2 separate regions of the Homo sapiens genome follow, and region 2 is linked to region 1. The links come from fine-mapping of genetic effects on gene expression. Tissue or cell type: whole blood. Region 1 holds a variant in brackets; the other region holds the start of a gene. All regions are shown on one strand. Distances are between the middles of the regions.

The links. PIP is the estimated chance that this variant, and not a neighbour inherited with it, causes the effect.
Region 2: it holds the start of MELTF, and the variant in region 1 is fine-mapped to the expression of MELTF in whole blood (TOPMed, PIP above 0.99).

Annotation. Positions count from the first base shown.
Region 1 is chr3:197,101,601-197,104,441 of GRCh38, reverse strand. The region is part of intron 14 of DLG1 (discs large MAGUK scaffold protein 1); the gene reads left to right. Among named protein-coding and RNA genes, the nearest start is that of MELTF, 73 kb to the right of the region's middle. The variant A/T (reference allele first, on the strand shown) is at 1,358.
Region 2 is chr3:197,028,462-197,031,132 of GRCh38, reverse strand. It overlaps MELTF (melanotransferrin), which reads left to right and starts at 1,316. Exons shown (of 16, transcript NM_005929.6): 1 at 1,316-1,479. The coding sequence starts at 1,431. RefSeq lists enhancers at 287-923, 924-1,560 and silencers at 1,094-1,583, 1,634-1,683, 1,874-2,053.

The sequences.
Region 1 (2,841 bases):
CCAAAGTGCTGTGATTACCGGTGTGAGCCACTGCACCCTGCCAAAAGTATTTTTTAATGATGTGGGAACTGGCATCCACAAGCTTAACCCACAAAACCCCCATTATGTGGGTTAATTTAACTGTTTACTTTTTTAAATCTGTTCTGTAACTGAAGACATAGCTTTTAATGTCCCTTTTACTACTTTATTGATCTGAAAAAATAATAAAAACCATAAGCAGATATAGTAATAATGCCCAAAAAAATTAGGTCACCCAGATTTTTTCTAGCTTTTGAATTAGGTTATAATTATTAATATCAAGATTTAAGACATGTTTCTAATAGCTGTTACTGCCGCTATTTAAAATAAAGAGAAGAATGCCAAGTTTGGAGTATACTGTGTGTCTAGATGGTGAAGTATGGTGGATGTGACTTTACTAAGTTCCTGGGGGAAGAAGGTGGTGATGGAGAATTTGAGGTCATGCCATAGTAAACATATGTAAGACTCTAGTGTACATCAGCATAACCACATCTCCAATAAAACCTCAGTGGAATTTAGAAAGCTTAAATACCCAAAAGAATACATAGCATATTTGTTGATGCTCATAAACAACATGATGAATAAGGAAAAGATGATGTGAGTAAAGGAGCTAAATGAGTAATTCTGTAATTTATCAACTAATTACATTTATTCTTTTTTGAAGCAGAATTTCTTTTTTAATCTAGTATGTTTTTTAGCTGATCAAAGCAGCATGTTGAGCATTGCTTGGTCTTTCTTAAGTATGGGAGGTTCTATCAATCTAGTAAAACCTTGGCCTTTTAGGCTTAGTAACTAAACAGGGGAAAATTTGTTTAATTGGGAGTAAATTCTGAATATTAATTCACATTAACCAAACAATAGAGACTAACGTATGAAGTCAGAATGTCAATTCGTTAATTTTTGTGAGAAACAAATCTGCCAATGGGACCCTATGTTGTACTTTTATCTTCTGGCCAACATATTCCACCCCGTAGGTACACTATATGGAAGCCGAGTTACAGTCACTGGTTCCTTAGTATTATAGACAGCCTCTCATTTATATGTTTATAAGGAATATAAACTTTTTAGGTATGGTTACGGGTAACTTAATATCTGCTCCCTAACCTCAAAACACACAGAACACACAAAAGCAGTAAGAAAAACAAAACATACACGCATGCTCCTACCCACACAACTTCACTTAATATTAACTAAAACTAAGAAGGCAGGTATGATACCTGGACAACCAAGTAGAGGTAAAGACTCCTTAAGCAGCTGAGGTCTTGCAGAAGCCACACGGAAAGAGGGGAAGAGTTAAAATATGGAATGTTGAGAATGTTTGTGATGGCACAAATTTAGG[A/T]TATGGTATAAAATTTCACTCATAATGTGGTTTGGTTTAGAAAAGCAGAGGACCCGTATTTGGATAAAGCAGCCTGCCTCTGTAGGATCAGATAATGTGACAGTATTTGGGTTTTAAAACCTGTAAAAATGTCCTGTGCCTCTATCTTTCCTGCACCCCTCGACTTTCTGGAATAGCTACTCTAGCAAAATCTAGCAAAGTAATAAGTAATTTTTTTTGTTTGTTTTAAGATGGAGTTTCACTCTCTTGCCCAGGCTGGAGTGCAGTGGCACAATCTCGGCTCACTGTAACCTCCGCCTCCCAGGTTCAAGCCTCCCAAGTAGGTGGGATTACAGGCACCTGCCACCACGCCCGGCTTATTTTTGTATTTTTAATAGCGACGGGGTTTCACCATGTTGGCCAGACTGGTCTCCTGACCTCAGGTGATCTGCCTGCCTCGGCCTCCCAAAGTGCTGGGATTACAGGCGTGAGCCACAGCCCCCAGCCCCAGTAATAAGTAATTTAAAAGTAGCCTCACATTCATACAAAGATAATAAGAGGTGGGGAAAAGCATCAAAGCTTAGTAACAGGTTAGCTACACGCACACACAACACAAAAACATTAACACAAATCGGATTTTAAGAAGTACAAAAGGAGTCATCCGACACTCTGATAATCAGCATCTTGCAGTTAGTATCTTTCCTAAAGGCTTGGGATTCTCTGCCTTGTTGATAATCTTATATATATACATACAAGACAGACAGATAGAGACAAAGGTAAGCTTTTGGTAGAATTAAGTTTTTTATCTTTCAGGATCTATGGTTTGCCTTATTAGTCTTCCAAAAAAGTACTTTTATGGGTTTTTCAGCTTGTGTACTTTGAACTTTCTTGACTTGGATTCTGATTATGAGAAAAAATAATCTCTACAAGACATATGAAGGAACATTATCTTCTAACTCCTTTCAGTTTTATTAATTCCAAAGGCAAGGAATAATTCACTTTGGGGGGCCTTTACTGTTAATCTTTTTGGAGAATCATTATCAGAAATTAGCTGGACGTGGTGGCTCAGGCCTCTAATCCCAGCACTTTGGAAGGCCTAGGTGGGAGGATTACTTGAGCCCAGGAGTTCGAGACCAGCCTGGGCAACATAGCAAGATCTTGTCTCTGCTAAAACTTTTTTTAAAGTTTTTTAATTAGCCATGCGTGGTAGTGCGCACCCGTAGTCCCAGCCAAGGCAGGATTGCTATGATCTCACCACTGCACTTGAGCCTGGGCGACAGAGTGAGACCCCGTCTCAAAATAAAAATAAAAATAATCGAACATGGGAACTGGAAATATAATACTATACTCGTTTTGGACTCCATATCCCAAAGTTATAAAGTTTTATCACATACTTCCTATAGTTTAAGAATCTCTTGGCCAGGCGCGGTGGCTCACGCCTGTAATCCCAGCATTTTGGGAGGCCTAGGCGGGCAGATCACGAGGTCAGGAGATAGAGACCATTC
Region 2 (2,671 bases), 73 kb after region 1:
CCAGTGTGTGATAAGCAGTAGCTTCATGGCCCCATAGGAGGGAGGCCTTCCTTCCCCAGGGCGCAGAGCAAGCTCAAGGACAGACAAACTCAGAGGGATGTCTTCTCTCTCACTGTTGTACTTACCCATGTCAGAGAGAGACATCATTTCTGAGTCTCAGAGGGGCTGATGACATAAAGGTGAGGCCTAAATGGAGGCAGGTGACTAACAATGTCTTCAGTTCATTCCCCGCATCCCCAACCACATGGGGAGTGCCGCTTTTGCCCGCCTGCGACAGTGGTTCTCAACATTTGCTGTGCCCCGAAATAAAAACAGATTGTGGGCCCCGCCCCCAGAGCTGTCGATCCAGTGGGTCGGAGGTGGGGCCTGAGCACTTGCATTTCCAGCAAGTTCCAGGGTGATGCTCACGTTGCTGGCCTAGGGACCACACTGAGAACCACTGTCCTAGAAATACGGTCAACCCACCCTTTCCTCCCTCACCTTCTTCACTCTCTTCCTCCCCTTCTCCGCCTGTTTCTCCTTTTCCGCTTCCTCCAATTCCTCTCTGGTCCTCTTCTCACCTTCCAATCAGCTGGCTCTGCCACTGACTGGATGCCTGACTCGGGCAAGTCACCTCCCGTCTCTAGGCCCGAGGAGAGGCAGTCGGCTAGGCCGAGATGCCCCTGCCCGGCTCCCCCCTCGCCAGGGCGCTCGGCCTGGGCTCCCCCGTATCCCAGATCCTCTGTGCAGCTGTGGCCGAGATGCCCCTGCCCGGCTCCCCCCTCGCCAGGGCGCTCGGCCTGGGCTCCCCCGTATCCCAGATCCTCTGTGCAGCTGTGGCCGAGATGCCCCTGCCCGGCTCCCCCCTCGCCAGGGCGCTCGGCCTGGGCTCCCCCGTATCCCAGATCCTCTGTGCAGCTGTGGCCGAGATGCCCCTGCCCGGCTCCCCCCTCGCCAGGGCGCTCGGCCTGGGCTCCCCCGTATCCCAGATCCTCTGTGCAGCTGTGCTGGGAGGGAGCTGCTGCGTGAATGAGATCATCCTCCAGCTGCCCTCCAGCCCCGACTCTGGGATTCTGACCTCTCCTTCCTTCCACGTCTGAGCTTTTCTCTCTCCAGTTAGACACGGTATCTGGAGTCTTTCTAGGGCGCGAGGAGGGGAGGATACCCTGGAACGCGGGGTAGGAGGCTGAGGCGAGAGCCCCGAGCAGCGGCGCCCGGGCCCGAGCGGGAGGCCTCCAGCAGGGGGCGCGCCGGGGCCGCCCAGGGGCGGGGTCCGGGGTCGGCGGGAGGTGACCTGCGCCCCAGGGGCGTGGATTCCGCCCGGGAACTCGCGGCCGCACTTAAGGAGCTCGGGCCAGCGCGAGGGGGAGCAGGGAGGAAGCCCGGCTGCTGCGGACCTCCTCGGACCCGGACCCAGCCCCAGCCCGGCCCCAGCCAGCCCCGACGGCGCCATGCGGGGTCCGAGCGGGGCTCTGTGGCTGCTCCTGGCTCTGCGCACCGGTGAGGCCCCGCTGTGAGAGCCAAAGGCGGGCGGGGGTCCCGGGGCGCCGCGGCCCGGCTGAGCAGGTCCCGGGGCTGGAAATGTGCCTGAGCCTGCGGCTCCGGGGCAGTGAGACGGGGGAGGCAGGGGCTCGGGGTCGAGTGAGGACGGCGGAGGGAACTAGCACTGAAGCGCAGACGGGGAAGTCTGGAAGGCTTCTTGGAGGAGGCGGCCTCGAACACCCGAGGCTTCCGACGCTCCAAGGAGAAGCGCGGGCTGAGGCGTGGTGGGGAGGCCTCGGGGTGTGGAGAGGAGCTCCCGGAGGGCGGCCCCTCCCGACGGGCGCAGGAACTCAGGAAGACTTTGGGGGCTCGGAGCAGCTCTTTCTCCCGAGCCCCCGCGGGAGAAGATTCAGAGGGACTGACCGGCAGGCGCGGGAGTCCGCCCGGGGGTTTCTGGCACATGCAGGGATGGAGGTGGAGACGGAGGCCGGGTCCCCTCGCGTCGGCGCCCCGGGGAGTCAGGGCCCGGGATGGTGGGACGGGAGGCGGGACCTCGGGGAGCGGCTCGCGGGGATCGCGGGCGGCGACCGCCGAGGGGATGGAGTTCGTGGCACCGCTGTGGCCGCAGGCGACGCACTCATCAATGCAAACGATGAAGCCACCGCCACCCCCGCCCCGTCTGAACTTTGCAGTTTCCCGCCTGGGTGGTGGGGGGCTTGGAGCGCTGCGGAGGGGAGGGCAGTTCGACTTCCCAGGCCTCCGCCAGGAGTGGGGAGGGGAGGGCTGTGGCGGAAGCTTCAGTCTCGGCCCTTGGGCTGGTGGGGCTGCCACGGGAGGGTGACCTGGTTTCGGGCGGAGTCATGCGTTTCCCTCCCTCCTGCACAGGCCTCTGGCAGTGCTGGCTGGGGCAGGGTGAATGGCAGAGGAGCTCAGGCCTGAAAGTCATCGGCCCCAAGGGGCTCCAGCACCCCTTCCTCTGGGCCCCTAGCCTGGGAGCTCTCGGGGACTCTGACCCGGTCAGATCCTGAGGCATAAGCAGAAGTCCACTGAGGATGTGGGTGTCTCAGGCTCTCTACAAGGGGGTTTACTTTCAACACAGAAGGTGGGGTTTTTATCTGCTCTCTCAGAAGATGAAGCAGGCTCAGAGAGGCTTGAACCTACCCTGATGGGTCCTCAGCCTCCCCTCTGTGCCTGCCGTCTTCCCTTGGCA